Linked DNA regions of Homo sapiens. The protein of the gene in region 1 interacts with the protein of each later gene in a pairwise test. Each region holds a gene or a part of one and is shown in the gene's direction. Other genes may lie near its edges. The genes, in order: ZNF398 and ZNF783.

The links.
Region 2: the proteins of ZNF398 (region 1) and ZNF783 interact in binary tests that used the Homo sapiens proteins (3 or more experiments, as listed by UniProt).

Annotation. Positions count from the first base shown.
Region 1 is NC_000007.14:149,159,301-149,175,554, forward strand, and holds part of ZNF398 (zinc finger protein 398), read left to right. Parts: intron 1-6,857; coding exon 6,858-6,984; intron 6,985-7,516; coding exon 7,517-7,630; intron 7,631-16,254. UniProt on the Homo sapiens protein: Functions as a transcriptional activator.
Region 2 is NC_000007.14:149,258,069-149,274,449, forward strand, and holds the start of ZNF783 (zinc finger protein 783), read left to right. Parts: upstream 1-4,127; 5' UTR 4,128-4,265; coding exon 4,266-4,289; intron 4,290-4,403; exon of another isoform or gene 4,404-6,442; intron 6,443-6,960; exon of another isoform or gene 6,961-6,999; coding exon of another isoform or gene 7,000-7,056; intron 7,057-8,266; coding exon 8,267-8,662; intron 8,663-8,750; coding exon 8,751-8,877; intron 8,878-9,028; coding exon 9,029-9,154; intron 9,155-16,381. UniProt on the Homo sapiens protein: May be involved in transcriptional regulation.

The DNA of each region.
Region 1 (16,254 bases):
AAGATTTACTAAATTGAAATATGAGAAACTTTTGTGTCCTTGCTTTGTTGAAAATGCTCTTTTTCGGCTGGGCGCGGTGGCTCACGCCTGTAATCCCAGTACTTTGGGAGGCTGAGGCAGGTGGATCATGAGGTCAAGAGATCGAGACCATCTGGCTAACATGGTGAAACCCCGTCTCTACTAAAAATACAAAAAAAATTAGCCGGGCATGGTGGCGGGTGCCTGTAGTCCCAGCTACCCGGGAGGCTGAGGCAGGAGAATGGCGTGAACCCGGGAGGTGGAGGTTGCAGTGAGCTGAGATCGCACCACTGCACTCCAGCCTGGGCTACAAAGTGAGACTCCGTCTCAAAAAAAATGCTCTTTTTCTGCTCTTAAATTTGAATGCCAAGTTCCAGGTCCAAAATAACTTTTCCTCAAAAAAAAAAAAAATTTTTTTTTTTGAGATGGAGTCTCACTCTGTCTCTGTTAGAAAGATGGAGTGCAGTGGCACAGTCTCCACTCACTTCAGCCTCCACCTCCCAGGCTCAAGCGATTCTCGTGTCTCAGTCCCGAGTAGCTGGGACTAAAAGCATGCACCACCATGCCTGGCTAATTTTTGTATTTTTAGTAGAGATGGGGTTTCCCCATGTTGGCCAGGCTTGTCTCGAACTCCTGACCTCAAGTGATCCTTCTTCCTCAGCCTCCCAAAGTTCTGGGACTACAGGTGTGAGTCACCGGGCCCAGCCAGTGTGAAACTTTGATACATTTGTATAAAGTGTAATGATAAAAGGAGGATAATTAGCTGATTAGCATATCTATCACCTGAAGCATTTATCATTTCTTTGTGTTGGGAACACCAAAAAAATCCTCTTTTCTAGGCCAGGCGCGGTGACTCACGCCTGTAATCCCAGCACTTTGGGAGGCCAAGGCGGGCGGATCACAAGGTCAGGAGATCGAGACCATCCTGGCTGACACGGGGGTCTCAACTAAAAATACAAAAAAGTAGCCAGATGTGGTGGTGGGGGCCTGTAGTCCCAGCTACTTGGGAGGCTGAGGCAGGAGAATGGTGTGAACCTGGGAAGCGGAGCTTGCAGTGAGCTGAGAGTATAGACCAGTTTATACTAGGAAGTGGGATTCTCTTCTGCATATGGCCATTCCCTACATGCAGTCTTAACCCCAGTGAGGCAGAATTCACAGTCCTCCTCTGAATGCACTCTTCAGTTTCCTTCACTTGAATGTTTTCTCCATTCCCATTAGGACTAGCCAAAGTCACATCTCTTTTTGAGTCATGCCAGCCCCATGTCTTGTCCATGTCATTCATTTGCAGATAGTCATATTCCCCTTTGGGGCAGAAACCATATTTTAGTTATCTCAATGCTTAGGGAAAACCTTGTATGTAGTGGATACTCAGAATATTTTCTTGTGTGAATTAAGTATGCTTTGCATTTGTATCTAACTCTGAGTAACTCTGAGTCCTCCACCCTCCAGAAGCTCACAGCTTTAGATTATCACCTTTCTTCTTGAAATCATTGTGAACTCCTAGAGATTGGTCTGTGCCTTATTTTTCCTGTATCCTTTCAGTACCCCATATAGTTTTCTCAGTCAGGAGGCACTTAGTAAACAGTAAAGATTTTTAGACTGAGGGGGCTAGAGTGGGGGCGGGCTGCTGGCTGAGGTGGTGTCTCTGCTCTGCACCCCAAGGAGGCCTGTCAGGAGGAGGTGGGCTTTCCCCAACGCTGCCCTCTTGACCCTTGGAGCTCTCCCAGGATTCCTCAGATTTCCCCAGCGCCCCTTTGGCACTGTGTCTCCTCCTCTTTGCCCTGCCTTCTCCCTGTCCCACCACCACCTCCTCACCCTGTCTATCCCTCCTCCTCTTTGCTCTGGCTCCTTGCCACCAGGATCTTTTCCTAACTTTTTTCTTTCCTAGTAGAGACAATGGGCTGACAACCTGACTTCCAAAAAATATTGAGGAAAGGCAAAAACTAGTTTTTAGGCCAGGTGTGGTGACTCAAGCCTGTAATTCCAGGGCTTTGGGAGGCTGAGGTTGGAGGATTGCTTGAGGCCAGGTGTAGGACACCAGCCTGGGCAACATAGCCAGACCCATCCCTACAAAAATTATGTTTCTAAAGATTGACTCGCCATAGTGGCATGTCACTTCCTGACTCGTCCCAGCTACTCAGGAAGCTGAAATCGGAGGATGACCTGAGCTCAGGAGGTCGAGGCTATAGTGAGCAATGATCACATCACTGCACCCCAGTTTGGATGACAGAGTGAGACCCTGTCTTAAAAACAAGCAAAACAAAACAAAACCAAAACCAAAAACAACTAGTTACCAGATTCTGAATGCCTAACATACAAGCATACAAGGTGGCAGGATGAGTACATAAAGTCGCAAAAAGTACTCAAGTGCCTATTAAATGAAAAGCAAACATACCAGGAAAAACTTCAGCTCCTGCTTGAAGAACTAAGAGGGGAATTAGTAGAAAAGCTAAGGACTTAGAAGAAATGAAGCTGCAGGTAATTAACTCCAAAAAAAAAAAAAAAGGGGAATTGTTAAAAGCCCAAATACAGCAAGAATTAGAAACTCCAGTGTTTTTGCAATTGGGATGAAGAAGTGGAAAAGTATAGAGCTGCAAGCTTTGCTATAAACATACATTTCTTAAATAGAATCTGAAACACTAGGAAGAAGAATTTACATGTAGTTTAGAAAAAAACTCTAAAATTTGAATTAGAGATTTATTTTTATTTTTACTTATTTATATATTTTTCAAGACAGGGTCTTGCTCTCGCCTGGGCTGGAGTGCAGTGGTGCTATCTTGGCTCACTGCAGCCTTAAGGCTCAAGTGAGACTCTTGACTCAGCCTCCCGAGTGGCTGGGACTACAGGTGTGCATTACCACAGCTGGTTAATTTTTTTTTTTGAGTCGGAGTCTCGCTCTGTCGCCCAGGCTGGAGTGCAGTGGCGCAGTCTCGGCTCACTGTAACCTTCGCCTCCTGGGTTCACGCCATTCTCCTGCCGCAGCCTCCCGAGTAGCTGGGACTACAGGCGCCTGCCACCACGCCTGGCTAATTTTTTTATATTTTTAGTAGAGACAGGGTTTCACCATGTTAGCCAGGATGGTCTCGATCTCCTGACCTCGTGATCCGCCCGCCTCGGCCTCTCAAAGTGCTGGGATTACAGGTGTGAGACACTGTGCCTGGCCCCACAGCTGGCTAATTTTTAAATTTCTTTATACAGACAGGATCTCACTATGTTGTCCAGGCTGGTTTCGAACTCCTAACCTCAAGTGATGCTCCTGCCTTGGCCTCCCAAAGTGCTGAGATTACAGGCATGAGCCAGTGCACCTGGCCTGAATTATAGATTGCAAGACTGGGGAAAGATGTAGAACTATATAACCAGCTGCTTAGTGTTGATCCCACAAGAGGCAACAAATGAGTAGAGGAACTTGTTTGAGAAAAAGTCCATTTGTTTCAGAAATTAAAATAATTCATAGGCTGGCTGGGCACAGTGGTTCACGCCTGTACTCCCAGCACTTTGGGAGGCCGAGGTGGGCAGATCGCCTGAGGTCAGGAGTTTGAGACTAGCCTGGCCAACATGGCAAACCCCTGGGTGGGGGGAGGGGGGCGGCGGAGGTTGCAGTGAGCTGAGATCGTGCCATTGCACTCCAGCCTGGGCAACAGAGCGAGAGTCTGTCTCAAAAAATATATATATATTCATTCAGAGGCTGAAGTAGCAGATTTAACGGCTGAAAAAGAGAATTCTGGTGCTCAGTTAGAAAACGTCCTAAGAATACAGGTGTGACAGTTGGCTGAGATGCAGTTACAGTCAGGTCCCAGTAGGCCAAAAATGTCACGTAAACTGTAGGTTAAATGCTCGGAAAAAGAGCCACAATCAAACAATGAACAAAATACCTGTTTTGTTTGTTTGTTTGTTTGTTTTTTTCAGACAGAGTTTCACTCCTGTCGCCCAGGCTGGAGTGCAGTGGCGTGATCTCAGCTCACTGGAACCTCCGCCTCCCAGGTTCAAGCGATTCTCCTGCCTCAGCCTCTTGAGTAGCTGGGATTACAGGCATGCGCCATCATGCCCAGCTAATTTTTTTTTTTTTTTTTTGAGATGGAGTTTTGCCCTTGTCGTGCAGGCTGAAGTACAATGGTGTGATCTCGGCTCACCGCAACCTCCGCCTCCCGAGTTCAAGCGATTCTCCTGCCTCAGCCTCCCAGGTAGTTGGGACTACAGGCCTGTGCCACCACGCCCCTGGCTAATTTTGTATTTTTAGTAGAGACGGGGTTTCTCCATATTGGTCAGGCTGGTCTTGAACTCCCGACCTCAGGTGAGCCACCGCGCCCGGCCAAGCCCAGCTAATTTTTGTGTTTTTAGTAGAGACAGGGTTTCGCCATGTTGGTCAGGCTGGCCTCAAACTGCTGACCTTGGGTGATCCACCCGCCTTGGCCTTCCAAAGTTCTAGGAGCCACTGCGCCTGGCCAAAGTACCTTTTTAATCATTAAAGATTACATAAAACTGAACAAGAAAGAAATACCCTGACCAGGCTGGGAGTGGTGGCGGTGGCTCACGCCTGTAATCCCAGCACTTTGGGAGGCTGAGGTAGGTGAATCATTTGAGGTCAGGAGTCGAGCCCCACCTGACCAATATGGTGAAACCCCGTGTCTACTAAAAATACAAAAATGAGCCAGGCGTGATGGTGTGCACCTGTAATCCCAGCTACTTGGGAGGCTGAGGCAGGAGGATTGCTTGAACCCAGGAGACAGAGGTTGCAGTGAGCCGAGATAGCGTCACTGCACTCCAGCCTGGGTGATGGAGCAAGACTCCATCTTAAAAAAAGAAAGAGGGCCGGGCGCAGTGGCTTGAGCCTGTAATCCCAGCACTTTGGGAGGCCGAGGCGGGCAGATCACAAGGTCAGGAGATCGAGACCATCCTGGCTAACACGGTGAAACCCCATCTCTACTAAAAATACAAAAAATTAGCCGGGCGTGGTGGTGGGCGCCTGTAGTCCCAGCTACTTGGGAGGCTGAGGCAGGAGAAGGGCGTGAACCCGGGAGGCAGAGCTTTCAGTGAGCCAAGATCGCACCACTGCACTCCAGCCTGGGTGACAGAGCAAGACTCCGTCTCAAAAAAATAAAAATAAAAATAAAAAAAGAGAAAGAAAGAAATACACTGAGCACTAAAGTCAAAGAACGAAACTTTCAAGCATACTAGAAATAACAGCCATGAAACTAGAGGCAGCAAGAGTGAGCTAGAAAGGGAAAGGAAAAAGATTCAAAGTGAACTGGATGGTTTACTGTCAGACAATGAAATTCTGAGACCAGCTATTGAACACCACAAAGTGCCCTTAGTAAAAAAAGATCATATATTAATATGTAAGGCACCAGATGCCAAGGAAGAAGGTTGTAAAAGACTTCTGGCATTACAGGATGAAAAGCTAGAATTTGAAAACAAGTTAGCAGATAGAAAATGAAAGTGGATCATGATGTCTGCAAGCAATGTGAAAAGCATCAGTGTGAAAAGAAATTGTGGGAGGCCGGGCACGGTGGCTCACACCTGTAATCCCAGCACTTTGGGAGGCTGAGGCAGGTGGATCACGAGGTCAGGAACTCGAGACCAGCCTGACCAACGTGGTGAAACCCCATTTCTACTAAAAATACAAGAATTAGCGGTGTGTGGTGGCGGGTGCCCGTAATCCTGGCTACTTGGGAGGCTGAGGCAGGAGAATTGCTTGAACTCGGGAGGCAGAGGTTGCAGTGAGACGAGATCGCGCCACTGCACTCCAGCCTGGGTGTACAGCGAGACTCTGTCTCTAAAAAAAAAAAAGAAAAGAAAGAAAGAAAATGCAGAGGAAGAAAAAAACGAAAATTTTGACCTGGAATAGTAAATCAGTAGTTTTCAGATCCAAGTTACCTCACTTGCAGAGTTCGAACCGAATGCTGAAAGAAACGATGGAGACATTAAAACAGGAATGCTGAAATATAAGAAATCAAGCTGAGAAAGTCTAACTAGAAGTCAAAAAGACATTGGAAAAAGAACAGACACAGCAGTTAGAAGAAAAGCATATGCTTCATGAATGTATCTCAGGGAAATGTACAGTCAAGCTAAAGAGAAATTGCAGTGAGCTGCAGTTGCCCAGAAAAACAGGAAATCTTGCCGTGAAAACAATTGAAGAGATGGCAGGACAAGGTGTAAATCTTGGAGGCAGGTAGAGAAGAAATGGAAACAGAAAATTGGGTTTTAAATAGACAAAATGTTCCATTTGAAGAATGTACAAAGCTTCAGAAAAGACTAAAGGATACACACAGAAGACATAATGAATTTTGAAGTTTAATTTTGGTTCCTAACATGCCTCCAAAATCAATCCTGTTTGCTCTCAGTCATCAGCCATGGTATTATCCTTTCCTCCTCATGTGCACGATGAACAGCATCAAAGGGAACTCTGTACTTGGCAAAAGACTAGAGGAACTAGAAACAACACAAAGAAAACAAATAGAGGAATTTGGATCTCCTGGAGAGTGATGTTCTTAGAGAAAAGGCATTTTAAAAGAGGTGAAATCAAAGACTCAATAAAGCTTGAAGTTTTAACATACATGGTATTTAGATATTTTATTACTGCTTACCAAAATACTCGAATGTGCCTCAAGAAAAGGTACCAGCTTTATTTAAGGGACTCGTGCTGTATTGCATGAGTACTAGGATTTTAGGATTTTCTAATGACAAGTGAAGCATTAAAAGAAACCATTTCAGAGATATTTAGAATATTTATTGACCACCCTTTGAAAATGTAAAAAAAATAAAAGGAACTAATTGGAAAGAGATTTATTGAATGACTGAATTATAATGGAAGGGACTAACCCATGTGATTGTAATTTTAGGTGCCTGTGGCATTTGATGATGTCTCCATCTACTTTTCCACTCCAGAGTGGGAAAAATTAGAAGAATGGCAAAAGGAACTTTACAAGAATATCATGAAGGGCAACTACGAGTCTCTCATCTCCATGGGTGAGGCTGAGTTGACACCTTTTGAATGAAGTGACAGCAGCTCCAAGAGGGCTCAGAACAGTCCCTTTTCCTCCAGTGACCTCATTCTCACTCTGTCTTCACACACTTCAAATTCTGGTTTCAAGCCAAAATATGACCAATTAATGCTTGCTAACTAGGAATCATAATCTCTCTTTTTACCAAATTGTAGGACAGAGAATGAAGTTCAGGGTTATGGGTGTGACAGCTGGTGGTTTCCATGGGTATCCTTCACTTGGAAAGGAGCTTGACTTCTCCCCCTTGAGGCACACTGTCACTCTGAAAGCAGTGCTAACCTAGCACATGTGCTTTCCCCACACATTACATCTCCACTGCCTGCTTTCCTGAATAGATATCCACAGCTGAAGATGGATAGATGGGAAGAAGTGATATGAAATCTAAAAGAAATTCCCTGGCACTGTGACCACAAAGCTTCAGCTCAGCCTTGATGGCAATTAGTTGTCATCCTCATTTATCTCTTTGTAATACTCTCTCTTCCTTTTTCCTCTCCTAGATTATGCTATAAATCAACCTGATGTCTTATCTCAGATTCAACCAGAAGGGGAACATAATACAGAGGACCAGGCAGGGCCAGAGGAAAGTGAGATTCCCACAGACCCCAGTGAAGGTAAGTGGGAGAAGAGATTCCTACTTCTTGTCTCCCTTTCCTGGTCAGACATGGTGGCTCAGAGCTAAGCAGGGCTTAGGGGCTTCTAGAGCCATTCATTGCTAAAGCAACTAGATTTTGAATGTGTCATCAGGCATTTAAATATAAAAGGGAGCTTAGAGGTCACCTTGTCCAGTGTCTTCACCTATCAGTACTACACACCTAACAGTTACAAGTTGCATTTCCTGACAGAAGTACTGACACCTAGCTGTTTAATAAAATAAACATGTCCTTACATGATGAAGGAGGCAGTCATGCTCATCTGGACTAAATTGGCTTGAGCAAATATAAGCATGGCCCTTCATAAGTGCTGAAGGGACTAGGAGTCTGCATGGTCCCTCTAAGATGCATGGAACCAGTAGACACTGATGACATCCACCTGGGCAACATGGATTTTCTCAGGTCTGGGAAGCTGGCTATCATGAACTCTTCCTAACTTTTTGGTTGGCAGCTGCTTAACATTGTGTGGGAAAGACTGCCAACCAAAGTCCAGTTTTATTGTTTCTCTCATGCCTCACCTTGCTGTCAGAAAATTCTCATACACTTTTTTGTTCTTTGATGGATAGAAGCACACAGAAAGTTGATCCTCCGGGCATCTCTATTATATGAACTTCTCTTACAACCCACCCGCTATCCCATATAGTTATTTTTTTCTTTTTCTTTTCTTTTTTTTTTTTTTTTTTGAGACGGAGTCTTGCTCATGCGATCTCGACTCACTGCAAGCTCCGTCTCCTGGGTTCACGCCACTCTCCTGCCTCAGGTTCCCAAGTAGCTGGGACTACAGGCGCCCGCCACCACGTCCGGATAATTTTTTCTATTTTTTAGTAGAGATGGGGTTTCACCATGTTAGCAAGGATGGTCTTGATCTCCTGACCTCGTGATCCACCCGCCTCGGCCTCCCAAAGTGCTGGGATTACAGGCCTGAGCCACCGCCACATTTATTTTTTTCTAACATTTTATTATGAAAATTTTCAATCAGAAAAGTTAAAATATTTTTATAGTGAACACCTGGATATCCAGCGCCTAAATTCTGCCACTAACATTATACCATCCTTCCTTATCATGCATATATCTATCACTGCATCACTCCATCCAGCCATCCGTCTATTATTTATTTATTTATTTTGGAGATGGAGTCTCACTCTGTCGCCCAGGCTGGAATGCAGTGGTGCGATCTTGGCTCACTGCAACCTCCACCTCCTGGATTAAAGTGATTCTCTGGCTCAGCCTCCTGAGTAGCTGGGATTACAGGTGCCCACCACCACGCCTGGCTAATTTTTGTATTTTTAGTAGAGACAGGGTTTCAGCATGTTGGCCAGACTGGTCTCGAACTCCTGACCTCAAGTGATCTGCCTGCCTTGGCCTACCAAAGTGCTGGGATTACAGGCATGAGCCACCGCACCCAGCCATCTATCCTATTTTTGATGTATTTCAAAATCAGTGAAGACATCAATGCATTTTCCTGTAAATAGTTCAGCATGAATATTATTAACCTAGAGTTCAATATTTGTTTTTTTCTTTTCAGGTAAATTTTACATATAATGAAATTTCAAGTCTTAATTGAGTTTTAAGCAATGTACACATCTGCCTCACATTTATTATTATTATTATTATTTTGAGATGGAGTCTCACTCTGTCGCCCAGGCTAGAGTGCAGTGGCGTGATCCTGGCTCACTGCAACCTCCGCCTTCCAGGCTCAAGTGATTCTCCAGCCTCAGCCTCCTGAGTAGCTGGGATTCCACGCCCGGCTAATTTTTGTGTTTTTAGTAGAGATGGGGTTTCACCATGTTGGCCAGGCTGGTCTTAAACTCCTGACTTCAAGTGATCCACCCGCCTTGGCTTCCCAAAGTGCTGGGATTACAGGAGTGAGCCACCACGCCCGGCCATATTATTTTTTAAGAATGTGTAGGTGATTGCATTTAGTCAGTGTAACACGTTGCATTTTACTAATCTTTATATCACAGATATAAGTAATGAGGCTAAAATAATACCACCAATAAAGATGAGTGACTTGACTACAGAAAGATTTCTTATTGGGTATATTTCTTTGGTCTACATTATTAGTTATCTGTCATAGACCTCAGCAAGTACAAATGAATATATCATTGTATTTTATGGGATGGGTGAAAAAGATAACAAGTAATTAGGTTTTGTGATAACGTATCAAAGTTTCATTTTGCTGTTATCTTGTCAGTTTGTTTTTACCATGGGTTTTCAAGATGCTCATGCCTCAACCCCCTGAGTAGCTGGGACTATAGGCATGTGCCACCATGCCCAGCTAATTTTTGTATTTTTAGTAACGATGGGGTTTTGCCATGTTGGCCAGGCCGGTCTTGAACTCCTGACCTCAGGTGACCCACCCACCTCGGCCTCCTAAATTGCTGGGATTACAGGCATGAGCCACCGTGCCTGGCCTGTTATTTTCTGTTGGTTGATCAAATTGTCAGCTTCACAATTTCTTTCGTTTGTTTGTTTGTTTTTAAGACAAGGTCTGGCTCTATTGCCCAGGCTAGAGTGCAGTGCCATGATCAGAGTGCAGTGCCATGATCTGAGATCAGTGCAGCCTGTGCCTCCTGGGCCCAAGCCATCCTCCCATCGCAGCCTCCCAAGTAGCTGGGACTACAGGCACACACCACCATGCCTGGCTAATTTTTGTATTTTCTGTGGAGATGGGGGTTTGCCATGTTGCCCGGGCTGGTTTTGAACTCGTGAACTCAAGTGATTCACCTGCTTCGGCCTTCCAAGGTGCTAGGGTTACAGGCCTGAGCCACCACACCCAACCTCAGTACTTGTTTTCTTAAAAAAAAATATGCTCCTGGCTCTGTTGGAGGGCCCAAAGACCACTCCCAGATTTCGTGATCTGCTAGGAGGACTCACAGGATTCCCATATGGTTGTACTCACAGCAAGATTTGTTAGAATGATACAAAGTAATATCAGCAAAGGGAAAAGGTACCTGGGACAAAGTCTGCAGGAAACCAGGGACAGGCTTCCCAGAGTCCTCTCCCAGTGGAGTCTTATAGGATATGCTTAATTGTTCCAGTAATGAGTTGTAACAACCAGAAAAGCTCATTAGAGACTCAGTGCCCAAGGTTTTTATTGGGGGCTAATCACATGCATACCCTCTGTCTAGCACTTACCCAAATTCCAGACTCATAGAAGGAAAGCACGTGTTCTGCATATACCACACTGTTTGACAAACACAATCATGCGCTGCTGAACAATGGGGATATCTTCTGAGAAATGCATCATTAGTTGATTTTGTCATTGTGCAGACATCACAGCGTGAACTCACACAAACTAGATGATGTAGCTTTCTATGTACCTAGGCTATATAGTATAGCCTATTGCTTCTAGGCTACAAACTTGTACAGCATATTATTGTCCTGAATACTGTAGGCCATTGTAACACAATGGTAATTGTGTTTGTAAACACATGTAAAGATAGGAAAGGTACAGCAAAAATCTGGTGTAAAAGATACAAAATGAGCTGGGCACAGTGGCTCATGCCTATAATCCCAGCACTTTGAGGCCAAGGCGGGTGGATCATGAGGTCAGGAGATAGAGACCATTCTGGCTGACACGGTGAAACCCTGTCTCTACTAAAAATCCAAAAAATTAGCCAGCCATGGTGGTGGGCGCCTGTAGTCCCAGCTACTCGGGAGGCCAAGGCAGGAGAATTGCTTGAACCCAGGATGCGGAGGTTGCAGTGAGCCGAGATTACACCACTGCACTCCAGCCTGGGCAACAGAGCGAGACTCCATCTCAAAAAAAAAAATACAAAATGGTACATCTCTATAGGGCACTTGCCATGAATGGAGCTTGCAGGACTGGAAGTTGTTCTCACTGAGTCAGTGAGTGAATGTGAAGGCCTAGGACATTACTAGGCTGTAGACTTTATAAACACTGTATACTTAGGCCACACTAAATTTATAGAAACATTTTTTCTTTTTTTTTTTTGAGCCTCCTGGGTTCAAGTGATTCTCCTGCCTCAGCCTCCTGAGTAGCTGGGACTGCAGGCACGTGCCACCACGCCCGGCTAATTTTTTTTTTTTTTTTTTTAGAAGAGATGGGGTTTCACCATGTTAACCAGGATGGTCTCGATCTGCTGACCTCATGATCCACCTACCTTGGCCTCCCGAAGTGCTGGGATTATAGGCATGAGCCACCGCGCCTGGCCAAGAAATTTTTTCTTTAACCATAAATTAACCTTAGCTTACTGTATTACTTTATAATACAGTAATATACTTATAATACTACTTTATAATATAGTAATATACTTTTATTATTTTATAACTTTCTGACTTTTGTAATAACACTTAGTGTAAAACATATTGTACATATATACAAAAATATTTTTTCTTTATACCCTTTTTCTATAACTTTTTCCTATTTTTAAATTTTTTTACTTATTTTTTTGAAATGAAGTCTTGCCCTGTCGCCCAGGCTGGATTGCAGTGGCGCAGTCTCCGCTCACTGCAACTTCTGCCTCCTGGGTTCAAGTGATTCTCCTGCCTCAGCCTCCCCAGTAGCTGGGATCACAGGCATGCTGCGCCCCCACGCCCGGCTAATTTTTGCATTTTTATTAGAGACGAGGTTTCACCATGTTGGCCAGGCTGGTCTCAAATTCCTGACCTCATGATCCACCCGCCTCTGACCTCATGATCCACCTGCCTCGGCCTCCCAAAGTGCTGGGATTTACTTTTTATTATTTATTTATTTTGAGATGGAATCTTGCTCTGTAGCCCAGGCTGGAGTGCAGTGGTGTGATCTTGGCTCACTGCAACCTCCGCCTCCCAGGTTCAAGTGATTCTCCTGCCTCAGCCTCCCAAATAGCCTGTAGGCTCAAACCACCACACCTGGCTAATTTTTTTATTTTTTTATAGAGATGGGGTATAGCCATGTTGCCCAGTGTGGTCTCAAACACCTGGACTTAAGTGATCTGCCTGCCTTGGCCTTCCAAAGTGCTAGGATTACAGATGTGAGCCACCATGCTCGACAGTGGCCTGTTTTTGACCAAAACACCATTATGCAGTGCATGACTCCATGTGTCTTGCTCAAAACTGTCCTTATATTCAGCACAAATATAAACCTTTGTACTACTATACAAATGTTACATGGTACGTGACTGCAGTTAGGTACAGCCAACCACTCATCATTTAGGGGAAGTTTTGTATCAGCATAGAGACTACATACAGTAGTCCCCCTTTATTGATGGTATCGTTTTCCACAGTTTGTTACCTGCCGTCAACTGTGATCTGAAAATATTAAATGGAAAATTCCAGAAATAATTTATAAGTTTTAAGTTTGCCATTCTGAGTAGTATGATGAAATCTTGCACTATCCTGCCCTGTCTCATCTGGGGCGTGAATCATCCCTTTGTCCAGTGCATCCACACTGTATACGCTACCTGGCCATTAGTCACTTAGAAGCTATGTCAACTGTGGCAGTATTGCAGTGCTTATGTTAAGTACCCCGCGCTCCCCCCCTTTTTAAAAATAAATAATTGCCCCAAACTGCAAAAGTAGTAATGGTGGCAATTCAGATGTATCAGAGAAGCCGTCAAGTGCTTCCTTTATGTGAAAAGGTGAAATTTCTTGACTTAATAAGGAAGGAAGGAAGTTACATGCTGAGGTTGCCAAGATCTCTGGTAAGAACAAATCTTCTATCTGTGAAACTGTGAAGAAAGTAAAAGAAATTTGTACTAGTGCTACTGTTGCACCTCAAACTGCAAAAGTTACGGCCACAGTGTGTGATAAATACTTAGTTAATATGGAAACAGCATTAAAGGCAAGTACAGGCATCTCCAGGATATTGTGGGTTCAGTTCCAGACTACTGCAATAAAGTGAATATCACAGTACAAGTAACAATAACTTTTGTTTTCCCAGTGCATGTGAAAGTTAAGTTTACACTATGCTATACAGTCTATTAAGTTGGCAATAAATTATGTCTAAAAAAACAATGTACATACCTTAATTTAAAAATATTGCTAAGAATCCTAACAATCATCTGAACCTTCAGAGTCATAATCTTTTTGCTAGTGGCGGGTCTTGCCTCAGTATTGATGGCTGCTGACTAATCCGGGTGGTGGTTGCTAAAGGTTGGGGTGGCTGTGGCAATTTCTATTTTTTTTTTTTTTTTTTTTTTTTTTTTTGAGACAGAGTCCTGCTCTGTCGCCCAGACTGGGGTGCAGTGGCACGATCTCGGCTCACTGCAACCTCCGACTCCTAGGTTCAAGCAATTCTCTTGCCCCGGCCTCCTGAGTAGCTGGGATTACAGGCGCCTACCACCATGCCTGGCTCATTTTTTTGTATTTTTAGTAGAGACGGGGTTTCGCCATGTTGGCCAGGTTGATCTCGAACTCCCGACCTCAGGTGATCCACCCGTCTCGGCCTCCCAAAGTTCTGGGATTACAAGCGTGAGCCACCATGCCTGGCTGAAATATGTTTATTTATTTTTTTGAGACAGAGTCTAGCTGTGTCACCCAGGCTGGAGTGCATTGATGCTGAAATAAATTTCTTATGCAATAAGACTTCAAAGTAAAAATTACTCCTTGATCTGCGGGGCTGTAGAATGGATGTTGTTTTACAGGGATGAAAACAACACTCATCTCCTTGTTCATCCCCATCAGAGCTTGTGGGTGACCAGGTGCGTTGTCAATGAGCACTAGTATTTTGAAAGGAATTTTTTCTTCTGAGCAGTAGTTCTGAACAGTGGGCTTAAAATATTCTGTAAACCGTGCTGTAACAGATGTGCTGTCATCCAGGCTTTGTTGTTCCATTTCTAGTGCACAGGCAGTGTAGATTTAGCATAATTCTTTTTTTTTTTTTTTTTTTTTTTTTGAGACACAGTTTGGCTCTTGTTGCCCAGGCAGGAGTGCAATGGCGCTATCTCGGCTCACCGCAACCTCCGCCTCCTGGGTTCAAGCGATTCTCCTGCCTCAGCCTCCTGGGCAGCTAGGAAATACAGGCATGCACCACCACGCCCAGCTAATTTTGTATTTTTAGTAGAGACAGGGTTTCTCCATGTTGGTCAGACTGGTCTCAAACTCCTGACCTCAGGTGATCCGCCCGCCTTGGCCTCCCAAAGTGCTAGGATTACAGGCGTGACCCACCATGCCCGGCCTGATGTAGCATAATTCTTAAGAGCCCTAGGGTTTTCAGAATACTAAAATGAACACCGGGTTCAAGTCACCAGCTGCATCAGCCTGTAACAAGAGAGTCAGCTTGTCCTTTGAAGCCAGACATTGACTTCTCTCTAGTTATGAAAGTCCCAGATGACATATTCTTCCAATAGAAAGTTGTTTCTCATACATGAAAATTTGTTGTTTAGTGTAGCCCCCTTCCTCAAGTAATTGTAGCTAGGCGCGTGCCACCACAGCCAACTAATTTTTGTATTTTTAGTAGAGACAGGGTTTTACCATGTTGGTCAGGGTGGTCTTGAACTCCTGACCTCGTGACCTGCCCACCTCAGCCTCCCAAAGTGCTGGGATTATGAGCGTGAGCCACTGTGCCCAGCCCATTCAGAAAATTTTTAAAAACAAGCAGGTAAGTGTTTTAAAAGTCAGGTTTTTTGGCTAGGCATGGTGGGTCATGCCTATAATCCCAGCACTTTGGGAGGTTGAGGCAGGTGGGTCACCTGAGCTCAGGAGTTGAAGAACAGCCTAAGCAACATAGTGAGACCCCATCTTTACCAAAAATACAAAAAATTAGCTGGGCATGGTGGCACACACCTGTGGTCCCAGCTACTAGGGAGACCGAGGTGGAATAATAGCTTGAGCCTGGGAGGCAGAGATTGCAGTAAGCCAAGATTACGCCACTGTAGTCCAGCCTGGGTGATAGAGTGAGACCCTGTCTCAAAAACAAACAAACAAACAAAAGTCAGATGTTTTGAATGGAAAGTTAATCCTCTGGATATCGGTTCAGAGGTTTTCTTCCTTATATCCAGTCTTTCCCCCCCTCTGCCTTTTTCCTTATAGATATGTATGTGTATAACATCTGGAAGAGAACAAAGATAAGATTGGACTATGTTTAATACACTTCAGCTTTTCTTTTAGGTCAGAACAGGAGGTTGGCAAGGCAACTGTTGCATATGCTAAAATCTATTTCCCAAATCGCTCCCCATAACCGATGGTCGTTTGGGCTTTCGTCTTACCCCAGCCTCTTATTTCTGCTTTGAGAACACCTTTAGATTTCAGTGGCGTCTAACTGATTTAGAAGACATTGGGTAAAGTAGTCAGTTCTGTTAATTTGCTGTGAATTAAACCATATTCTGCCCACAAGGCTGTGTTTGAGAAATAACTATAGAGAGCTTCAGGGGACTCTCTGGAGCTTGACAAGCTCTCTTGTCAGCTTGCCAACTTGTCCATTTAGTCCAAAAAAAAAAAAATAATAAAGCCATATAGGCCTAGGTTGTAATAGCTAGCACAGCTGTTTTGGTACTGATCAGATGAGGCATGTTGTGTGCAAAGCCGATATTGGCTGTGCACTTTTTCTTTCAGAAAGAACCCCCAAGACCTGAAGGACTTGCCAATACTATATTCTTCCCCCTCCCAGCATTTAGGAAACAATGACTTGTATCATTTAA
Region 2 (16,381 bases), 94 kb from region 1:
CTCATCCATTTCTTTCATTGAACAAATACATATTGAGTCCCTGTTATCTAGACACTATTTTAAATACACATCAATGAAAAAAAAGATCTTTGCCCTTATTGAGTTTATGTTCTTTCAAAATCAGTTTTCTTCCTTTACTGCACCTTTGCACAGCCCTTTCCTAGGTGAGGACAGTATTCCATTCTGCCTTAGAGTTTGTTCACTCACAAATATCTGAGTATCCTCCCTGTGCAGAATTCTACAGAGGGGTACAGGGATAAATCTTGCTCTTGGACTTACAGGCTACTAAGGGAATATAAGATAGAATAGTAATGTCTTCAGATAAGTGAGGGTAAAAGGCTTTAAGCATTCAGAGAACAATTATTTTAGATGTGAGACATTAGGGAAGACTTCGTGATAGGTGGTATTTGAACTGGCCTTTTAAGGATGGGAGGAAGGACATTCTAAATGGAGGTGACATGACCAAGTCAGGAGACATTATGGGACATGTACAGAAGAGGAGTTCATCCAATTTCGGGAGGGTGGAGTGTGAGAAGGAGAGTAGTGGGTGTTAAGAGTTGGGTCAGGCTTCAAGGAGTCTGGATTTTATTCGGTTGATAATGGGGAGCTGAAGAATTTTGAGCAAAAGAGTGACCTGATTCTAGCTGTGATTTGGGAATACTAATAAGAATTATACTGTGCTTTTTGGGGGGTGTGAGGTTTGGGATATGTTAGAAGGTTTCAAGTGAGATCAAGGAAGAGCCAGTGAGGACCTACCTGATTGGGTGCAGCTGCAGTGGGAAGGGAACAATAGATAAGACCAAGAAACAGTCACAGGATGTGATGCTGTGGGAATGGAGGGACCATTTTTTTTTTTTTTTTTTTTTTTTTGAGACGGAGCCTTGCTCTGTCGCCCAGGCTGGAGTGCAGTGGCGCCATCTCAGCTCACTGCAAGCTCCGCCTCCTGGGTTCAGGCCATTCTCCTGCCTCAGCCTCCCAAGTAGCTGGGACTACAGGCGCCTACCACCACGCCCGGCTAATTTTTTGTATTTTTAGTAGAGACGGGGTTTCATCGTGTTAGCCAGGATGGTCTTGATCTCCTGAGCTCGTGATCCGCCCGCCTCGGCCTCCCAAAGTGCTGGGATTACAGGCGTGAGCCACCGCGCCTGGCCTCAGGAGGGACCATGTCTTACTCCTATCAGCCTCCACAGCTCTCAGCACAGGTGCTTGGCACATAGGTGCTCAGCAAATGTTTGCTGAATGAGAAAGTATAATGGGTGTTCACAGAATAGAGAGCTGGGTGTTGTCTGAAATAGAGAAGGCTTCTATGGAGGAAGTGGGATTTGGCTGTACTTCTGGTCTCCCTCTACTAATGCTTCCGTTCCTAACATCTTTATAATTCTGTGTGGGTCCACCTCCTAATCTAAATTACATTCCTGGCTTGGAGGATGAGGGAGCCACAGGAATTCTGTCTCTGACCTGCCACTATCTCTTGGCTGAGGATGTTCTGGTGGGGACAATGGCACTTGAGTGTGCTGACCTCTTGTTGAGTGACCCTGGGTACTACTTTGGTGGCCCTCAAATTGTGACAACCCTACCTTCTGCAGGTGGAGTCACCCTTGTTACTCCACGGACTGGGCCTCCACTGGATGTTGTCAGTTCACCCAGAGATAATCAGGTCCTGGAAATCTGATCCCCCAAAAAACAAACTCACAAGAGACAGATTAACAATTAAAGATGAATGTAGGCTGAGCGTGGTGGCTGATGCCTGTAATCCCGGCACTTTTGGAGGCCGAGGTGGGTGGATCTCCTGAGGTCAGGAGTTTGAGACCAGCCTGGCCAACATGGTGAAACCCCGTCTCTACTAAAAATACTAAAAATTAGCCTGGCATGGTGGCAGGAACCTGTAATCCCAGCTACTCGGGAGGCTGAGGCAGGAGAATCTCTTGAACCTGGGAGGTGGAGGTTGCAGTGAGCCGAGATCGTGCCATTGCACTTCATCTTGGGCAACAAGAGCGAAACTCCGTCTTAAAAAAAAAAAGCCACCATGTAATTTTAATTTATATCAGAGCTGGCTTGACACCCCGGCTGGTCTGCTCAGAAACCACATTATGGTGCAAAGTGTTCGTTTATTAAATATATTTATAAAATCTGAGCATGGGAATGGGAGGTAGCTGTGGGACCCTGATAAACAGTGCCAAGGTTTTCGAACTGTGATCACCAGACCAATAGAATCAGCATTTCTTGGGAACTAGTTAGAATTGCAAATTCGCATCACTTTCATCCCCTCCTGTTTCAGACCTAGAAATGTTGAGGTTTGTGCCTAGCATCCTGTATTTTTAACAAGAACCCTCAGTGAACATGATGCACACTGAAGTTTGAGTACCACTGACTTAGAGAAACTTTTTTTCTAAAAAACGAAGACTAGCTGTCAAACATTATAGCACTCTTTCCTCAACAGAGCTCATTAAATCCTAGCATTTTTGTCTCCAGCCCATTTTCCTGACCCTTTCTTTCTTTCTTTTTCTTTTTTTTTTTTTTTGAGATGGGGTTTTGCTCTTGTTGCCCAGGCTGGAGTGCAATGGCATGATCTCGGCTTACTGCAACCTCTGCTTCCCGGGTTCAAGCGATTATCCTGCCTCAGCCTCCAGAGTACCTCACCACCACACCCAGCTAATTTTTTGTATTAGTAGAGATGGGGTTTCATCATGTTGGCCAGGCTGGTCTCGAACTCCTGACCTCAGGTGATCCATCCGCCTCAGCCTCCCAAACTGCTGGGATTACAGGCATGAGCCACGGCTCCTGGCCCATTTTCCTGACCCTTTCTGTTTGCATTGGACCTTAACTGTTATTCTATAACGTCACCATTTACTGGTATTTTATAATCCTGAATAGATTGGACTGATCCCTGATAAGATCCTAGGGATGCTCTTAATGTCTTTAGTGCATACTTGCAGTTTGTGTTTTAGATTGGGATAGTTCAACAAGAATTTCCAAAATGAATAATGCCAAATATTTATTTGATTTGTTACCTTAAAGTAACACGTCCTAACCTTTCCGCAAATTTTGGGGTTCACCTTACTTAGGATATCAGTTTGTGTTTTTTCTGATAGTTGACCACGCTTTTGCTTGGCTCAAATATTTGTGAAAATAACTTCTCACCCTCACCCCCCCCCCCCAAAAAAGAAAAAACAAAACCAAAACCAAAAAACCCCAAACAAACCCAAACACAGAAAGAAACAAAACTGCAGATTTCTAGCGGGAAGAGTTTGCCAGCTTGTTGGACAAAGACTGTGAGATGAATGGGAAATGCAGAAAAGACAGAAAACAAAGCTTCAACTGCATACAGCACATTTAGTTCAATATGCCTCAGCACAGGCCGAGGAAAATGGGTCCTGCGGTTTATTCAAGATGCCTCAGGGCCTAAATGAGGGATGGACTGATTCACACTTGCTGTGATCTCAGCCTGGACCAAAGCTACAGAAGGGTCCTCGTGGGTGGCTGAGGACTTTCACCAGGCGGGCCCCGGGAGGAGGAAGGGACCCCAGAGTCCTCAGGAGGGGAGGGCAGGCTTAGGAAAAAAAAAAAAAAAATCCTACCATCTTCACGTTTGTTCTGTCAAATTTAAAAGAGACTTTAAAAACGTTCATGTAAGTTTCCCTGGCTTCTCCCTGGGTACACACGTATCCTTTTTACTTTCCCCAACTCAGTTCTGTGGTGCGTGGGAGGCGCTGCAACAGAGTCTCGGTCCGGACTGGAGCCCCGGCGAGGGCCGACCCCGTTCCCCACGCAGCTTTCCCTCGCGAGGTTTCGCACTTTCCAGCGCGGTTCCTTCCCGCAGCCCTCCCGGCTCCCGCGTGGGACGCAGAGAGAGGTTGGGCGCCGCGCTGGCCCGGGAGTGGCTTACGCCTGACGTAGCCCCGCTGGAGGCCGTGGCACGCCCGCCCTGGCGTCAACTCCCGCGCCCCGGGTGAGGGTGGGTGGCCGCGCCTGGGTCCCGGACGCCGCGGGCGCTGAAGGCCTCGGGAGGGCGCGGGGCGGCGGCCGCGGGCGTGCGGTCCTACGGGCTGCAGGGGGCGCTGTGCGCGTCCTCAAGCTCGGCCGCCGAGCGCAGCTCTTTTTTAAAGGGCCAGCGGGGCACGTGGCTCGGGACGCAGTTCGCTGCCGCCCGGCAGTAGCTCTCAGGTTAGGCGGGTCCCGCTCCGCTTCCGCCGTCGCTGCCGCGCCGCCCCGGGCCCGACAGGCCGGGTCCAGGGACTGCAACCCAGCGAGGGACGCGGGCAGCCATGGCCGAAGCGGCGCCTGCCCGGGTAAGCGCCCTCGGCCCCGCGGACGCCCGGAAGGCCCAGGCCGCCGCCGCGTGAGCCCGCGCGAGGGACTCTGGCCGCGCGAGGCCGCGGGGTGAGAGGGCCTTGCGCGCAGCCTCCGCGCTCGTTGCCCCCGGCCCATCGCCCAGCCCGCGTCGAAGGCATTGACCGGGCGGCCCAAATGCCAGGCCCGGCGGGCGGGGCCCCGACGTCAGCGGCTGACGATCCGGCCCATCTGCGGCCTCAGCCAGGCCGGGCCCCAGAGTCACGCTCGGCGACGAGGAGGCCGCGCCTTAGGAGTATTGTCCCATTTGAGGCCTCGCGGCCCCCCCTACAGCAGGCTGGGCGGGCAGGGGCCGCCAGCCCCACGGGACAGTAGCGGAGGCTGAGATGGGAAGGGACAGGCCCAGGGTCACGCATCTATTAGAGGCGGGAGCCTCACGCCGGGGCAGGGATTTTGGAATTAGACACTTTAAAACGCCTCATATTCTACTTTTGCCAAAGAGAAAGATTGTGTCGTTTACAAGAGAGATAGTAGATTTTTTTAAAAAAGATTACTGTAGCAGATTTTATTTAATTTTTTTTTTTGAGAGGGAGTCTCGCTCTGTTGCGCATGCTGGATGGAGTGCAGTGGCACGATCTCGGCTCACTGCAAGCTCCGCCTCCCGGCTTCAAGGGATTCTCCTGCCTCAGCCTCCCAAGTAGCTGGGACTACAGGCGCCTGCTACCACGCCTGGCTAATTTTTCTATTTTTGGTAGAGACTGGGTTTCACTATGTTGGCCAGGCTGGTCTCGAACCCCTGACCTCGTGATCTGCCCGCCCCGGCCTCCCAAAGTGCTGGGATTACAGACGAGAGCTACCGCGCCCGGCCATTTTAAAATTTTTTAATTAAAAAAGTATATATATATACGTGTGTGTGTGTGTGTGTGTGTGTGTGTGTGTGTGTGTGTATATATATATATATATATATTTTTTTTTTAGACACAGTCTCACTCTCACCCAGGGTGGAGTGTAGTGGCGGGATCTCATCTCACTGCAACCTCTGCCTCTGCCTCCCGGGTTCAAGGTATTCTCCTGCCTCAGCCTCCCAATCCCAAGTAGCTGGGATTACAGGCGCAGGTGCCTGTCTCATTTATATCTATCTATCTATCTGTCCAGATACATATCTATATGAATAAGTTTATTCATAAGAATACACTATAAGTATTCCTATACAGAATTTTTCTCCTGGAGAAGGAAGAATCACATCAGTTTTTTTGGCATCTTCATCTATATAAGTTAGGCCAGTTTAGCAGATTTTAGAATCTTGGTTTGATATAGTGCAGTATGTCCAATTGGGAGATTATAATCCTTTGGCCATTTTTGACATACTGGAAAACGCTTGTAAAGGCTCAATAGATGATACCTACTATTATTAATACACCTCAGTGAAGGTTTTGAAACCTTGATTTTTCTGGATACTTTTATTAAAGTATAACTTCCTCTCCCTCCTCTTAGTGAGTGTGCTGAGCTTCTTTTTGGGTTCCCTGAGTGCAAGGGAGAGAAAAAGCGTTGAGGATTCTGCAGGTTTATAGTCCTGTTCCCTGGGAAGAGGGGGCCCTAGAAGGTGACATCATCCACTCCCCCTAGCCTGGGGCTCACTGCTTCACTACCTTTCAGATCACTCCTGTCCACCTGCTCCTCCCTTCTTGCAGCACTTGAGATCCCAAAAAACTCCCCAAAAGGGACAGATTTGCCCTGGACTCTTGTTAGCCCATCCTATCACACTGTTGTTGTTTATAAGTATTCCTATACAGAATTTTTCTCCTGGAGAAGGAAGAACCACATCAGTTTTTTCTTCATCTTCACTGTACATTTACTATGATAGGTGTTCAGTAATTGTTATTGAATGAATGAAGCAATTATAGATTACTAGTGCTAAGGGGGAGGGGCAGTGAAAATCTCTAGGATGCGTTGTCTATGCTAGAATCTTAAAAACGAGAGAGACTCAGGCATACAGAGGATGCATATTGAGAGCTGATGTGAAGTTGGAGGAGGGCCGGGTGGGTCCTCGGAATCCACAGGAGGCTGGCATGGCTGGAGCACGACAGGAACTGGATGGCTCAAGGTCAAGAGAGGTCGGCTGGGCCATGAAGAAGTCTAGATCTTATGCCAGGTACACTGGGAAGCTATTGAAGAGTTTTAAGCAGGGTACTGAAATGATCTATTTGTGTTTTTAAAAGATTACCAGGCCGGGAGCAGTGGCTCACTGACTCACGCCTGTAATCCCAGCACTTTGGGAGGCTGAGGCGGGCGGATCACAAGGTCAGGAGTTTGAGACCAGCCTGGCCAATATGGTGAAAGCCTGTCTCTACTGAAAATATAAAAATCAGCTGGGTGTGGTGGCGGGCGTCTGTAGTCCCAGCTACTTGGGAGGCTGAGGCAGGAGAATCGCTTGAACTTGGGAGGTGGAGGTTGCAGTGAGCCGAGATTGCGCCACTGTACCCCAGCCTGGGCGACAGAGCAAGACTCCGTCTCAAAAAAAAAAAAAAAAAAAAGATTAACAATTACTCTGTGGAAAGTGTATTGTCGGGGAGAAGCCTGGAAGTAGGGGAGAAGGCTGGAAGTGGGGGAGAAGGCTGGAAGTGGGGGAGAAGGCTGGAAGTGGGGGAGAAGGCTGGAAGTGGGGAAATCAGGTGGGCAGGACCGCAGTGGCCCAGGCCAAGCAAGGTGATGGGAACTTGGACTAGACACTGGCAGTGGAGAAGGAGAAACATGGATGGATTTGAGGTAATTTTGGAAGTTAGGACCTGATGGTGATTTAACCATGAAGGATGAATGAAATTGAGGAGTGAGATGTTGATTTGTCTCTCCAACAAGGCTTTTAGCAGCACCAACCAGGACTGTGCCCATTGCGCATGCACAATGAGGGCTTGTGAATCAGATACCAGGGTAAGCTGAGGCACTTGAGAAGCTTTTTCCAAGGCACTGAAGGACAATGGAATAAAAGAGGTGGAGGTTAAAAAAAAGGCCATATGAACTATTTATACCATATCCCTGAGCTGGAACCATCACCATAATCACTGTCATTGTCTCAGTCTGCTCAGGCTGCCTTGGTTCCCGGCAGGGCTCTTTTCCTGGTTTGCAGACGGCTGCCTTCTCATTGTATCCTCACGTGGCATACAGCAAGATCATCTCCCTTGTGTCTCCTCTTACAAGGGCGCTAATCCTATTTATGAGGGCTCTGCCTTCATGGCCTAATTGCCTCCCAGAAGCTCCACCTCCAAATACCGGCATATTGGGGATTAATGCTTCAGCAGATGGATATTGAGGGAGACACAAGCATTCATTCCATAGCAGTCAGTGTCATCTTAGCCCTGCAACATGGGGCTCATGTTTATTATCTGTGCTGTGCTACACATTGTACTAAGTGCTTTGTACACAGATTTTTCTTAATTCTCTCAGTGCTATTGTATAGGTACTATTATTATCTCCATTTTCTAGATAGGGAAGGGAAGTTGGAAGCTGTTGAAAACACCTTGCCCACAGTTGGCCAGCTTGTAAGTGGCAGAGCTGAGTTGCACCTGGGCTGTCCACTGGGGAGTCATGTTCTCTGTGCCACAAAGCCTTGTCCTTTCATTTTTAGAAGAGGAAACTGAGACCCAAGAAGGGGAGTCACTTGTTTGAGACTGCACGTGGTTGCTCAAGCCTGTGGGGCATGCCCCGTCTCCATAGCTAGCCTGTAGGACAGGAGCCGGGGCTGTTTTTCTTCCACTTTCCCACTTGCTGACACGTTGGTCCAGCCACTATCTCTTGTATCAGTTAGGCTGGATTCCTAACTGATACCCTAGCCTCTCCCTCTCCCCCCCAGTCTGCTGCTAACTCAGGAGCCCAGATGGGACTTTACCATGGCAGGTGTCATTTCCGAAGTGTGTTTTTGAGGTGGAAGTTTTGATTGTATAATTCTCATAACATCTCTCTTTTCTCTTCTTGTGAGCAGGACCCCGAGACAGACAAGCACACAGAGGACCAGAGTCCTTCGACACCCTTGCCCCAGCCAGCTGCTGAGAAGAACTCGTACCTCTACTCCACGGAAATCACACTGTGGACGGTGGTGGCCGCCATTCAGGCCTTGGAGAAGAAGGTGGATTCCTGCCTGACCCGCTTGCTGACTCTGGAGGGGCGCACGGGGACAGCCGAGAAGAAGCTGGCCGACTGCGAGAAGACAGCTGTGGAGTTCGGGAACCAGCTGGAGGGCAAGTGGGCCGTGCTGGGGACCTTGCTGCAGGAGTACGGGCTGCTGCAGAGGCGGCTGGAGAATGTGGAGAACTTGCTGCGCAACAGGAACTTCTGGATCTTGCGGCTGCCCCCGGGCAGCAAGGGGGAGGCCCCCAAGGTAGCACCGGGACACCCTGGGGTGGGGGAGCTCGAGGGGCTGAGCCTGTGAGCGTGTGGGTGAGTGAGTGCGACACTTATGGTTCCAGGTGCCCGTGACCTTCGATGATGTGGCCGTGTATTTCTCTGAGCTGGAGTGGGGCAAGCTGGAGGACTGGCAGAAGGAGCTCTACAAGCACGTGATGAGGGGCAACTACGAGACGCTGGTCTCCCTGGGTAAGGCCACGGAGGGAGGATCTGGGCCTCTGTCCACAGGTTGTCTGTGGACAGTCTGTGTCTTTGCTTTGGCTTTTGGTACTTTGGGCATCTCTGCATCTCTGTGGGCATGTGGGGTCCAGCTCTTCCTCATTTCTTGTTCTGTGCACAGATTATGCAATCTCCAAACCAGACATCCTCACCCGGATAGAGAGGGGAGAGGAGCCTTGTCTTGACCGGTGGGGCCAGGAGAAGGGGAATGAAGTAGAGGTGGGACGTCCAAGGATGATGGGCACTGGTAAGTATAGGAGCCAGATGTGGTTGGGGGGCCGCCAGGGGCTAGCTGCACCATCGCCTACCCTCTCGGGCTTCCCAGACAATCAGGGAGGGCAGGAAGGGAGCATAGACCATTAACCCAAAGTGGGACCACTCTGTACAAGGCCACCCTGGGCAGGAGTGGGTGGCTGGCTTGAGCCATAGGGTTTCTATATCTGTCTAAGGTGGAACATCACACTCACCTTACGTGGTTGTGATGACTGAGTGATAAGTGTTAAGCATGTACATACTGATCACTTTATAATAGTGGAGACTGGCCTGGCGCGGTGGCTCACGCCTGTAATCCCAGCACTTTGGGAGGCTGAGGCGGGCGGATCATGAGGTCAGGAGATCGAGACCATCCTGGTTAACATAGTGAAACCCCTTCTCTAGTAAAAATACAAAAAATTAGCCGGGCGTGGTGGCAGGCGCCTGTAGTCCCAGCTACTCGGGAGGCTGAGGCAGGAGAATGGCGTGAACCCGGGAGGCGGAGTTTGCAATGAGCCGAGATTGCGCCACTGCACTCCAGCCTGGGTGACGGAGCAAGACTTCATCTAAAAAAAAAAATAATGGGGACTTAGTAATACCTCCACCAGCAGCACTGCTGCCTCCTGGCATCTTCACGTGTGTCCATGTCCCCGCTATTGCTTGTGTCCCCTATTGCAGTCCCACAACCCCAGCCTGTGGCAGGAAGGCATGTCACGTGCTGGCTTCCATTTGTGTACATGGCCCTTGGTAGGAGGGCCAGGCATGCCCTGTCCTTGTAGCTGGTATATAGGACAGTGGTTCCAAAGGGGACTGCACATCACAATCCTCTGGGGAGCTTTATTTTTTCAATTAAATTTTAATAAAGTAGAATAGCACAGCGAATCTCCAAATGATCGTCACCAAAACTCAACACTCTGCTGGGTTTTGCCACATGCGCTTCATCCATCTGTTTTTACCCTTTTCCTGAACAATGACCACATACCATGATCACACCCACAGAATATCAGAATATCATCTAATACCATCTAATACCTAGCCTTTGTTTTGTTTTCCCTAGTTGTCTCAAAAATGTTTTCTATGGGTCTTTGGATCCTAATTGTAATACACCCAAGTCCACATTTTACATTTGGTTTACGTCTCTGAAGTATATTAAAAAAACTTATGACAATCCCCCCAGTCTTTTTCAACAGCTTTATTGAGATATAATTCATATACTATATAATTCACCTGTTAAAGTGTACAATTGAGTACTTTTAAAAAAAATTTCAACTTTTAATTTGGATATAGGCATACACCTGCGGGTTTGTTACATGGGTATATTGTGCCCAGGTAGTGAGCATAGTACCCAAGCTTTTCAATCCATTCTCCTCTCTTTCCCTTCCCCCTGTAGTAGTCCACAGTGTCTATTTTTGCCAGGTTTATGTCAATGTGTGCTCATTGTTTAGGTCCCAGTTATAAGTGAGAACATGCAATATTTGGTTTTCTGTTCTTGCATTAGTTCACTTAGGATTATGGCCTTCAGCTTCATGTTGCTGCACAGGACATGATTTCATTCGTTTTTATGGCTATGTAATATTCCATGGTGTATATGTACCACATTTTCTTTATTCAGTCCACCACTGATGGACACCCAGGTTGATTCCATGTCTTTGCTATTGTGAATAACATTGTGATGAACATACGTGTGCATGTATATTTTTGGTATAATGATCTATTTTCCTTTGGGTATATACCCAGTAACAGGATTGCTGGGTCAAATGGTAGTTCTGTTTTAAGTCCCTTGAGAAATCTTCAAACTGCTTTCCACAGTGGCTGAACTAACTTACATTCCCATCAACAGTGTATAGGCATTCCATTTTCTCTACAGCCTCACCAGCATCTGACGGTTTTTGAGTTTTTAATAATTGCCATTCTGACTGGTGTGAGATGGTATCTCATGGTTTTGATTTACATTTCTCTGATGATTAGTGATGGTGAGCATTTTTTCATGTTTGTTGGCCGCTTGCATGTCTTCTTTTAAGAAATGTCTGTTCATGTCCTTTGCCCATTTATTGCTTGTTGATTTAAGTTCCTTATAGATGCTGGATGTTAGACCTTTGTCAGATGCATAGTTTCCAGATATTTTCTCCCATTCTGTAGGTTGTCAGCTTACTCTGTTGGTAGTTTCTTTTGCTCTGCAGAAGCTCTTTAGTTTAATTAGGTCCCACTTGTCAATTTTTGTTTTTGTTGCAGTTGCTTTTGAGGACTTAGCCAAAAATTCTTTGCCAAGGGCAATATCGAGGAGGGTATTTCCTAGGTTTTATTCTAGAATTTTTATAATTTGAGGTCTTACATTTAAATCTTTAATCCATCTTGAGTTACTTTTTGCATATGGTGAAAGGTAAGGGTCTAGCTTCATTCTTCTGCACATGTCTAGCTAGTTACCCTAGCAACATTTTTTTTAAATTTTATTATTATTATACTTTAAGTTTTAGGGTGCATGTGCACAATGTGCAGGTTTGTTACATATGTATACATGTGCCATGTTGGTGTGCTGCACCCATTAACTCGTCACTTAGTATTAGGTATATCTTCTAATGCTATCCCTCCCCCCTCCCCCCACCCCACAACAGTCCCTGGTGTGTGATGTTTCCCTTTCTGTGTCCATGTGTTCTCATTGTTCAGTTCCCACCTATGAGTGAGGGCATGCGGTGTTTGGTTTTTTGTCCTTGCGATAGTTTGCTGAGAATGATGGTTTCCAGCTTCATCCGTGTCCCTACAAAGGACATGAACTCATCATTTTTTATGGCTGCATAGTATTCCATGGTGTATATGTGCCACATTTTCTTAATCCAGTCTATCATTGTTGGACATTTGGGTTGGTTCCAAGTGTTTGCTATTGTGAATAGTGCTGCAATAAACATACGTATGCATGTGTCTTTATAGCAGCATGATTTATAATCCTTTGGGTATATACCCAGTAATGGGATGGCTTACCCCAGCAACATTTATTGAATAGGGAAGGGAGTCTTTTCACCATTGCATTTTTTTTAGTCAGACTACAGGTGCACGCCACCATATCCGGCTAATTTTTGTATTTTTTCGTAAAGACAGAGTTTCACTATATTGCCCAGGCTGGTCTCAAACTCTTGGGCTCAAGCAGTCCACCTACTTTTGCCTCCGAAAATGCTAGTCAGCTTTTTTAGTTACCCTGAGATTCAGTCTGCACTGAAAAGGCAGAATGGATGCTTAATTCTTTCCTTTATCAGTTTCAGAATGAATGAAGAGTTGCTGCCTTAGTAGCCTCCAAAGGTGACCCATGACTTGGGCTTCTTTTTTTTCCTGAGTTAAGTTATTGTGACTTCACAGATAATTGGATATTTCATATGTGCTAGGCCTTTGCAGCCATGATTTTCCTGCTTAAACTGTCCCATCTTTAGCTAGTGGGAGCCTCTTTTTTAAGTTGGCCCATAGGTTATTCTGATGTGACCTCAGTGGCTTTCAGACACCATAAGGTGTGCCAGATTTATGTGTGTGCTTCCTGCTCCAGACCTGGAATCAAAATGTCTCTGGATTTTTGATTTCTATTGGTGAGGAGTGGTATTTAGAGATTACAATGTGAGTGTTAATTGTTGCTGATTTTTGGCACTACTTCTAGGCCTGTTCAGAAAATACATATTTTTGGAAAGAAAAAAGAAATCATGAGTTTATACATTGATATTTCTAATTCAAATTTAATGTTCTTTGGTTTTTTTTCTTGAGACGGAGCCTCGCTCTGTCGCCCAGGCTGGAGTGCGAGCTCACTCACTGCAAGCTCCACCTCCCGGGTTCATGCCATTCTCCTGCCTCAGCCTCCTGAGTAGCTGGGACTACAGGTGCCCGCCACCACGCCTGGCTAATTTTTTGTATTTTTGGTAGAGACGGGGTTTCACCGTGTTAGCCAAGATGGTCTCGATTTCCTGACCTCATGATCTGCCTGCCTCGGCCTTCCAAAGTGCTGGGATTACAGGCGTGAGCCACGGCGCCCAGCCTGGCTCTTTGATTTTATATTGTTTATCACTTTCCTTTTAGGTGGCAATCTTAAATTCTCAACGAAATTTGCATAATTTCTTAAATGATCTTATATCCAGTCCTACCACTTCATTATCCTATAATTTATCTTACAATTTCAAAACAGTGAAGCCATAATACTATTAACAATTAGACTTCCATTGAAATACAAGATTTCTTTGCAGTTCTTTTTGTCCTCTGTATACATTCTATGCAGGACTTATGGGCAAAATAATGCCTTTTAAAGTCACTTGAAATATTTTCTCTATGTAGTTATGTCACCAGCTTGGTATACAGTTGCATTCATTTGTGTATTTTTAGATTTTTTATTGATTATTCTTTTTGGTTTTTGATTTAACTTAATTTTTTGAATATGTAAGATATTTTATGTTTGCGAAGTCAAAATGATTTAACAGGGTAGATTCAAGGAAGTCTCGTTTCCATCCTTGTGGCCTCTCACTATAGATAATCATCTTGATTCCTTTCTTATTTATACTACCATGTTTCAATAACACAGAGATATATTTGTATTCCCACCCCTGTCTTATTCAGTAGGTTGTGGAGATCACCTCATATGATTATGTACAGATCTTCCTCAGTTCTTCTGTGGATTCAGAATGTTCTGTGGTATGATAGTTTATTTAACAGTCTGTACCTTGGACATTTAGGGTATTTCCAGTATTTTGCTGATATAAATAATGCTGCAGGGAGTACGTTGTGCATAAATCAGTTCATGTTTTTGCCAACGTATCTTTTTTTTAAATTTATTTTTTGTGAGAAGGAGTCTCACTCACTCTGTTGCCCAGGCTGGAGTGCAGTGGCACGATCTCGTCTCACTGTAATCCCTGACTCCTGGGTTCAAATGATTCTGGAGCCCCAGCCTCTGGAGTAGCTGGGACCACAGGTGTGCGCCACCACGCCTGGCTAATTTTCGTATTAGCAGAGACGGGGTTTCATCATGTTGGCCAGGCTGGTCTCTAACTCCTGACCTCAAGTGATCTACCCTCCTCAGCCTCCCAAAGTGTTGAGATTACATATGAGCCACTGTGCCTAGCCCCAATGTATCTTTGAGATGTAATCCTGGAAGTTGGATTTCTGGGTCAAAAGGTAAATGAATATGTTATTTGGGGAGAATTTATCTCCAAATTCCCCTCCATAGGGCTCGTATCATTTGCATTCTCATCTGTGTTGTGAGAAAGGTTCTCATGCCAACAGAGGGCAAACTTGTAGGATTCTTTTCAGTGTAATAGTAAGAAGTCTGTCAGTGTAGTTTTAATGGCACCTCTCTTACTGAGTGTGGATGAGTTTTTTTTTTCCTTTAGAACTCTTTCTATTTTAATCTCTAATTTTTATGGGTACATAGTAGGTGTGCATATTTATGGGGTACATGAGATATTTTGATACAGGCATACAATGTGTAATAATGACCTCAGGGTAAATGGGATATTCATACCTCAAGCATTTATTATTTCTTTGTATTATAAACATTCCAATTATACTTTTAGTTATTATAAAATGTACAATTAAATTATTGTTGACTGTAGTCACCCTGTTATGCTATCACATGCTAGATCTTATTCATTCTATTTAACTATATTTTTTACCCATTAACCATCTCTACTTCCCCCCTCGCACCTTCCCCCAACCCTTCCCAGCCTTCAGTAACCATCATTCAACTTCTCTGTCTCCATGAGTTCAATTGTTTTACTTTTTAGCTCCCACAAATGAATGAGAACATGCAAAGTTTGTCTTTCTGTGCCTGGCTTATTTCACTTAACATGATGTCCTCCAGTTCCACCCATGTTGTTGCAGATGACAGGATCTCATTCTTTTTTTATAGCTGAGTATTACTCTATTGTGTATATGTACCACCTTTTCTCTGTCCATTTGTCTGTTGATGGACACTTAGGTTGATTTCAAATCTTGACTATTGTGAATAATGCTGCAGTAAACATGGGAGTGCAGATACCTCTTTGATACACTGATTTCCTTTCTTTTGGGTATTACTTAGCAGTGGGGTTTCTGGGTCACGTGGTAGTTCTGCTTTTAGTTTTTTTGAGGCACCTCCATACTGTTCTCCATAGTGGTTGCACTAATTTACATTCCCACCAACAGTGCACGAGGGTTCCCTTTTCTCCACATCCTCGCCAGCATGTGTTATTGCCCGTCTTTTGGATAAAAGACATCTTAACTGGGATGAGATGATATGTCATTGTAGTTTTGATTTGCATTTCTTTGATGATCGATTATGTTGAGCACCTTTTCATATACCTGTTTGCCATTTGTACTTTTTTTTTTTTTTGAGATAGGGTCTCACTCTGTTGCCCAGATGTGACAGGAGTGCAGTGGCACAATCAGAGCTCACTGCACCCGATTTCCTGGGTTCAAGCCATTCTCCCACCTCAGCCTCCCAAGTAGCTGGGACTAGAGGCATGTGTCACCACACCCAGCTAATTTTTGTATTTCTTGTAGAGGTAGAGTTTTGCCATGTTGTCCAGGCTGGTCTTGAACTCCTGGACTCGAGCAATCTTCCTGCCACAGCCTTCCAAAGCACTGAGATTAGAGGCATGGGCCACCATGCCCAAGCTGTATGCCATCTTTTGAGAAATATCTATTCAGATCTTTTGCCCATTTTTAATCAGATTATCTTTTAATTGGGTAATTAGATTTTTTTCCTATAGATTTGTTTGAGCCCCTTAGATATTTTGGTTATGAATCCCTTGTCAGATGGATAATTTGCAAATATTTTTTCCCGTTCTGTGGGGTGTCTTTTCACTTTGTTGATTGATTCCTTTGCTGTGCAGAAGCTTTTTAACTTGATGTGATCCCGTTTGTTCATTTTTGCTTTGGTTGTCTGTGCTTTAGGGTAGTACTCGAATCTTTGCCCAGAACAATGTCCTGGAGAGTTTCCCCAATGTTTTCTTGTAGTAGTTTGATAGTTCGAGGTCTTATATTTAAGTTTTTAATCTATTTTGATTTGATTTCTGTATATGATGAGAGATAGGAGTTTAGTTTTATTTTTCTGCATATGGATATTCAGTTTTCCTGGCACCATTTATTGAAATAACCATCCTTATTCCAATATATGTTCTTTTTTTTTTCCTTTTCTTTTTTTTTTTTCTTTTTTGAGACGGAGTCTCACTCTGTCACCCAGGCTGGAGTGTGGTGGCACAGTCTTGGCTCACTGCAACCT